Linked DNA regions of Homo sapiens. The protein of the gene in region 2 interacts with the protein of the main gene of each other region in a pairwise test. Each region holds a gene or a part of one and is shown on either strand. Other genes may lie near its edges.

Region 1 (3,816 bases), on a different chromosome or scaffold from region 2:
CCCCAGTTGTGCGCATGCGGAAGCAGGAACCACCTCCCTCCCCGCGACGCCCGCTCGGGCGAAGGGACGGAGTCAGCTCGGACTCCGCCAGTGCAGAAGGCAAGCCGCAACCTGCCAGGGAGCATGGGCTGCTGGGCCTCAAAGGCTGTCGGGGGGTTGGCAGGGGGTGGGCTCCGTCAGTTTCACAGCTGCACCAGCCTGCAAACCCATCCTTTCCCTCTCACTCCCTCCACCCGTCTGTCTGTCCTTCTGTCCATTAAGTAAAATGCCTCCCCAGGAGACACAGGGATGCTGGCCATGCCAAGGCTGGCTGGCCAGCGTCCCAAGGGCTGGGGACTCAGTAGGAGCCGTGCCCACCCCACCCTGGCCCCGGCTCCTTTGCATGGGTCTCAGGTCTCGCCCTCCCGGCCCAGCCCCTGGGCTTTCACCCCAGCATGATGCCCACTTATACGTAGGCATCTCCCCCAGCAATGCTCCACAGAGCCCCTGGGCCCCCCAAAACCCCAGGAAGAGGTTGGATGCCCCAGGAAGGGAGCTGTTACCACCTAAGCTTCACAGGCCTTCAGAGATTAGAAGTTGAGGTCCAGAGAGGCTGACAACCTGCCTTGGAGCAGCTCCTCACCTGTGCTGCCCCCAGCCCTGTCCATGCCACCTGGGCTCCTTAATGGGAACCCGCTTCTCTTAATGTCTAGGGGAATTCGTCTGAAAACTATCTCAGGTCGCAGGTCCCCCCAGTCCTACAGACATCCACCCAGTGCCAAGGCTGTGAAATAAGCTCAGTCCTGCAGGGCACTGTCCACTAAGTCCTCGAGCTGCTGAGAACTCATGAACCAATGAACTCATGAACCAATCTGCAGGTCACACGGAAGCTGCCACGAGCTTCCTCAATTCCGTGACGCCGCTGTCCCCCAGCCCCCAAAACTGCTTCTTGTCCACTAGGGTCAAAAAAGCAACTATACAAAATAGAAAGGGTCGAAAAACAAAACACAGAGGAAAGAAATTCACCAAAATGCCAAGGAGAGCGCTCGGCCGATCCATCAGACCAGAGCTAATGCTGCTTTCTCCCTTCTCAGTGTTATTTATTTTCCTGTGGAACAAGTATTACATTTATGATGGAAAAAATAACTACTGATTCTAATTTGTTCTTAAAACCCCAGATGAGTAGTCACACGTGGGCTGCTGTTTATTTCCCTGCCTGAACATTTCTGAGGGAGCAGGGAGGGGCAAACAGCGAGTTTGGACCTCGGTGTCAGGTAGTAATTCCATGTTTCTTTCAGCTTCTTGGAATCGATCTTGATTCCCTCTAAAACAATAGAAGTCGCGAGCAACATATTCTGCCAACAAACCGCAGCCACCATTTTTGTTTTTCACTATAGATCAAAGGTCACTGAAAATCAGAACCAAATGGGCTGAACTTTAATTAGCGACAGGTCGGGAAGGGCTGAGCCGCACCCAGGCTGGGAGCTTTCCTGGAGGAACTCCAGGTCTGCCCCTGGCTGAGAACACAAAGCCATCCAGAAAGACGCAGGGGAACGTGCCCTGGGAAGCCTCCTGCCTGGGCAGCCCATGGACTCCCCCGCAGCTCCCAGATCCCTGCCCCAAGACTCTCCGGGCTACCCCAAGGGCCCTCGTCTGGCCCAGGAAAGCAAATGCCGGTGGAAAGCAAAGGCTCTGGGTTTTCTGAAATGCCTTCCCAAGTCTTGACAAAGCCCTTTAGTAACCTCAGTTACTTTAGAACCCAAATGCCTACCTGTGGGGCCCGTGGCTTTCCACAGGGGAACTTCCTCCAACCTGCAGCAGGTGGCTCCTGCCAGCCACAGCTTGGCGGGGACCAGCCCCTGGCTCACACACTCACCTCCACAGGAGCCAGACCCTGGGCACCTTCCTCCAGCCCTAAAGGCCCCATCCTGCACCCACCCCTAAAGGTACCCAAAAGCCACGTCGATCCCACCCACAGTCACCTCTGGACCCATTCCTTAGGGCCTAGAGGCCCCACTGGACCCCAAATTCCGTAAGTCATGCAGCCGATTCAGAACAGCGGCTGCCCCCAAAGCACCAGGCCTGCATGAGCCCCTTGCCAGGCACTCGGAATTGGCCTCCCAACTGCTGCCATCTCCCAGGGTCCCGGAAGAATCTAGATCGCAGGTCTGGGTAGCTGAGGCAGCTCCTAGCCACCTCCCACAGCCCTGCAGTGCTGGACCTGCCACCCCCACCTGGTGGTGTCACCCCTACTAGCTAGCACAGCAGCACTCCAATGCATTGTACTAACGGAACAGACCACCTTCTTTATTCACCAATATTTTACACTAAACATCAGCATATAGAACAAAGAGACACTGCTCAGTTTAAGGAGGCTGTAGGCCTCTACACCCCCACAAATCAACCATTCCTCTGCACCAATCCTGACCACAGTCACCTCTGAGAACCTCCAGGGAACCCTAGGGTTCCATGGGGGCATAGTTTGAGAAACACCAGTGTAGGCCTCAAACTGGGCCTAGCCCAAGGCCTTGAGCGACAGCAGGACTGAACAGACTGGGCTCACAAACACCTTCTGGGCACCAAGAAGGGCCCCCCGCCCCCTCGCCCTCCTACCTGGAAGCCGCGATCTCAGCCTTCTGCTTGGCGATGGTGGCGGCCCGCTCAGCGGCCTCAACGGCGCGGTCCACCTTCTCGCGGATCTTGCTGGCCCGCAGGGGGATGAGGTTCTTGCGCTTGCCGCCGACGAGGATGTTCTGCTTGTACTTGCCCTCCTCCTTGGTGCCGTCCGGGAAGGTCATGCAGCCGTAGCCATGGCGCCGGTTGCTGGCCCACTCGCCCTCGTACTTGAGCCCGTCCGAGCGCTGGCTCACGCCGAAGCCGGAGCGTTTGTCGTTCTTCCACTCGCCCACGTAGGTCTCGGTGGTGGTGGCGTCGATGTCGTCCTCGATGACCGCCAGCTCGGCCTCAGCCTCGCCCAGGCTGATGGTGGAGTGGATGTCGCTGGCCGTGGAGCTGACGGTGCTCATGCCCGCCTCGCTGCGAAAGGAGCTCTGCTTGCTGCGTTGGCTGGCCAGGCTGCTCTTGGACTCCGACTTGCGCAGCTTCAGCCCACTCAGCAGCGAGCGCCGAAACAGCCCCTTCTTCTTGCTCTTGAGGATCTCGGAGTCACTGTGGGCCACGAGCACGAAGCCCCCGCGGGACACGGCCGGGCTGCCGGCCACCGCCGGAGAGGCGTCGGGATGCAGCGCCGTGCCGTTGGTGTGCTCGCTGCGCAGGGAGTTGATGGACGTCCTCAGGGGTGAGCGGATGACCGCGGCCATGCCATACGGGACGCTCTGCCGGACGCCGTAGCCCTGGCGCATGCCACCGACCCACTGGCCCTGGTAGGTCCCTGGGGAGAAAATGAGAGAGGGGTGAGTGCCCAGCGACAGAGGAGGGGGCACAGCCTGGCCACGGACAGGGTTGAAGCAGCCACAGTCCTGTCTGAGCTTCCTGTTGTTTTGTGTTTTTTGAGACAGGTTCTCGCTGTGTTGCCCAGGCTGGAGTGCAGTGAGACCATCACAGCTCACGACAGCCAGGAACCCCTGGGCTCAGGCGATCCTCCTGCCTCAGCCTCCTGCGCAGCTGGGACTACAGGCGTGCACCACCATGCTCCACTACTTTGTAAATTATTTGTAGAGATGGCAGTCTCATTATGTTGGCCAGGCTGGTTTCTAACTCATGGGCTCAAGTGATCCTGCCTCAGCCTCCAGAAGTGCTGTGATTACAGTCATGAGCCACACCACTCCTGGTGTGCTATCTTGATGAAACCTGGTGAGGTTTGCGTGGAGGCAGACA
Region 2 (3,816 bases):
TGTAATGTAATAAAAATAGTTACAGTGACTATGAGTGTGTATTTATTCATGAAATTTGAACTGTTTGCCCCGAAATGGATATGGAATACTTTATAAGCCATAGACACTATAGTATACCAGTGAATCTTTTATGCAGCTTGTTAGAAGTATCCTTTATTTCTAAAAGGTGCTGTGGATATTATGTAAAGGCGTGTTTGCTTAAACTTAAAACCATATTTAGAAGTAGATGCAAAACAAATCTGCCTTTATGACAAAAAAATAGGATAACATTATTTATTTATTTCCTTTTATCAAAGAAGGTAATTGATACACAACAGGTGACTTGGTTTTAGGCCCAAAGGTAGCAGCAGCAACATTAATAATGGAAATAATTGAATAGTTAGTTATGTATGTTAATGCCAGTCACCAGCAGGCTATTTCAAGGTCAGAAGTAATGACTCCATACATATTATTTATTTCTATAACTACATTTAAATCATTACCAGGAACTGTTTGTTTTGTAGTGAACCTTGAGTATGTGCTGTTAATATACCAAATTGGGTGAAAAAATAAGGGATTCCTTTCAAAAGTTAAGAGAAGTAAGTGTGTAAGAAATTATTTTGCTTATTAAATGTTCGGTAAATGGCATTCTCTTGTCAGTAAAATGGAGAAATAAGCTAAAAATAATTGGCTAAGTCCTATTAAGTTAGAGGATTAAGTGTATTATATTTTCATTCAAAATTGGGTGCTCATTAATTTATGATCGGTAGTATAGCTAAATTGCTATGTTTGTATCAAAATTGAGCATAAAGTTGCTGATACTTTCTCCGTATGAACAGAAGTTGAAACCTATTTAGTTCAGTAGGGCAGCTCAGGGATTTTTTACACAACATGTATATCTTCCCATTTTAAGTTAGAATTATTTTACAACATCTGGTATACATAAACAGCTGGCACTGATAGCTAAATTAAAGTAGTAATGATCAATTAGTTTTGTTGGTATCTGAATAATAGCGTTGTTTCATAGCTCTGTATTTCCTAAGGAAGTACAAAGCTTCTAGCTCTTTCATTACAAATTCGCCCTGTGCAATAAGTTCTTTGATCTTCTCTGGATTCTTCACATCTTTGTTTTTAAGGAAAATGTTCTTCAAACGCTTTTTAAAATAGTCTGCTCCTTTTGGATAGTCTCGTCCAAGATACAGCAGCTTCAAAAAGAAAGATTATATATTTCTAAACAATCCATGTCATATAATAACATTTTTATAAAATTGGCAACATAATTACTTACATTTTTATAAAGTTTTAGTACTTCTCCTCTTAAAGAATTGGCCATTTTCATTTATCATGTAAATTATCCACTTTTATGCATAACATACCTAAAGAAAGGAAAATTTTTTTGCAATTAGCTGCATTGTAGTCTTAAAAAAATAAAAAAAGGTTATACACATTGAGAAAATGGTAACCTTTTTTACATTCAATAAATATTTCTTGATAACTTTTTCGTTCCACGTACTGGGATATAGTTATAAACACTTCCGATAAAATTACCTGCTGTCATAATTGACGTTTTCCTATGGGAGACATAAGCAAAGACAATTGTGATTGTGAGAAGTCACATGAAGGAAATGAGAAAGTGGATTGTCATCACAGATAGGTACGTGTACCTCCTTTTATGCCACAGTGGAATGAGTTAAACTAGATTTAAATTCCAGTTGCATAATGTACAGATTAATTAACCTTGCTGAGCCTGAGTTTTCCTTATCAACAAACAAGAGATTATCTTTACCCTGCTCTCAAGGCAAGGCCAGAGCCACTTGAAGGACATTGAGCAGAAGCCTGATCAAATGCTGATGGGTGCTTATCCAAAGGGAGGCTGAAAACTAGCAGAAACTGGGTGAGTTAAGCAGGTTGGAATAGTAGATGGGCAGTAAGATTGGTGGTGAAGAGGCCAAATGAACAACCTGTAAGAGGGTGTCCCTGAGGAACAGGCAAAATCATGCTTCTTTATGTGTAATGTGTTAACTCTACTTTGTAGAGGAGGCTCCAAACTTAAAGGCATCATGACAGTCTAAACCTAGAAAATAATTCCCACTACCTGTTAGAGTTGAATAGTAAGCTCTTAACATTGCATCCTATCAGGTGGATGCAACTGCAATTTGTTCCATTGTGATTGATAACTTTGATTACCCAATTAATGTATTTGCTAAGATTGTCCATTGTAAAATTATTTCTCCAAGGAACCTAGTCCTTTTAATGGAGAATAGCATTTAGAAACTATAATCTGGATGGAATGCTTTAGAAACCAAGGTCTGGGTGCTAAAAATGCTAATCACCATGGGACTGTCACTGTTCCCAGGTCCTCTAAGTGACAAAGCTGCAAGTGTATATACATACGGATTTAGGTGTTGTATGTGTGTATGACTTTTATATTAATCTCCATATAATCTGCTACCTAACATTCAATTCCAATACTACAGGGTTTATTTTCATTTCCCCTCTTTACATGGGTTTAATACTCTTGCTGAACAGTGAGAAGTCTGGTTCCCACTTGTCCTTAATAAATTTACTTTTTATAATCATCACCCCTTCTCTCACTATGTAATCAAAATCCTCTTGCTGTCACCATTCGGCGCACACACTCTACTCTCTGAGCTCTGCCACCTAATGCCAGAGTGCCACTGCCACCATCCCACATGCATGGTCTTCTCTTCCCCCTTTCCCCCAACCTACCCTTCTTGGGCTCAAGCAACTTACACTGCACCATTTCCTCCCTCCTGGGTAAGGCTCACCTTTTGTTCCCATTCCAAAAACCTGTGCCACCATTTCCTTCACCCTAATAGGATGCCCTCCTCATCCCCTGCTAGGCTGCTGCTGTGCACAAGTCCCTACCCCCAGAGGCCCTCCTCACTGCATTTGGGCTCCAGTATCCCCTGCTGGGCTACTACCTTGCCAGCCTTTCTCTCGCCCCCACCTTCCCCAGATGCCTGCCTTGCTCAGCCCCACGTAATGACTTTTGGACTGAATTACTCTGATAGGCAAGCAGGAAGCAACTTTTTTTTTTTTGAGATGGATTCTTGCTCTGTCCCCAAGCTGGAGTGCAGTGGTGCCATCTCAGCTCACTGCAACCTCCACCTCCCTGGTTCAAGCAATTCCCCTGCCTCAGTCTCCCCAGTAAGCTGGGACTACGTGTGCGCGCCACCACGCCTGGCTAATTTTTTTTTTTTTTTTTTTTGTATTTCAGTAGAGACGGGGTTTCACCATGTTGGCCGGGATGGTCTTGATCTCCTCACCTTGTGATCCACCCACCTTGGCCTCCCAAAGTGCTGGGATTACAGGCGTGAGCCACCGTGCCCGGCCGCAACTTATATTTTTAAAATAGGCTTTTAGATCAGTTTTAAGGGTTATTTTATAGTTAACTAGCAGAAAATGTGGATTAAAATTACAGTACCATACTCAATTAAAAATCATGCGCTACATAATTTAAGTTCTCCTGTTAACTTCTGTTTGGGTTGAACCCCGAAGTACAATAGTGTAGATTCTCATTGTGACCTCACCTGCCCCTTTAGGCATTTTGCAAAATTTACACCTTTTACAATTTGAAAGGCAGGGTGCCAGTGCCTTCATGTATTTCATTTAATCTGAAATTTTTATACGTATTAGACATAGAAACTGCATAAAATATGAATGTACAAATTAAAGTAAAATATACATCTGGGTACCCATCATTCAAGTTATGAAACAAAAGTCTTAGAAGCCCCCATGTGCCCCTCTCCAATTGCTTCTCCTTCCCCATCTCTACCAAGATAGCCTCTAATGACTTCCTGCTTATTCTCTTTA

The links.
Region 1: the proteins of ETFRF1 (region 2) and JPH3 interact in binary tests that used the Homo sapiens proteins (3 or more experiments, as listed by UniProt).

The regions. Positions count from the first base shown.
Region 1 is NC_000016.10:87,643,812-87,647,627, reverse strand, and holds part of JPH3 (junctophilin-3), read right to left. Parts: intron 3,371-3,816; coding exon 2,593-3,370; intron 1-2,592. UniProt on the Homo sapiens protein: Junctophilins contribute to the formation of junctional membrane complexes (JMCs) which link the plasma membrane with the endoplasmic or sarcoplasmic reticulum in excitable cells.
Region 2 is NC_000012.12:25,201,459-25,205,274, reverse strand, and holds the end of ETFRF1 (electron transfer flavoprotein regulatory factor 1), read right to left. Parts: exon of another isoform or gene 1,443-3,816; intron 1,356-1,442; 5' UTR 1,319-1,355; coding exon 1,268-1,318; intron 1,185-1,267; coding exon 963-1,184; 3' UTR 132-962; downstream 1-131. UniProt on the Homo sapiens protein: Acts as a regulator of the electron transfer flavoprotein by promoting the removal of flavin from the ETF holoenzyme (composed of ETFA and ETFB).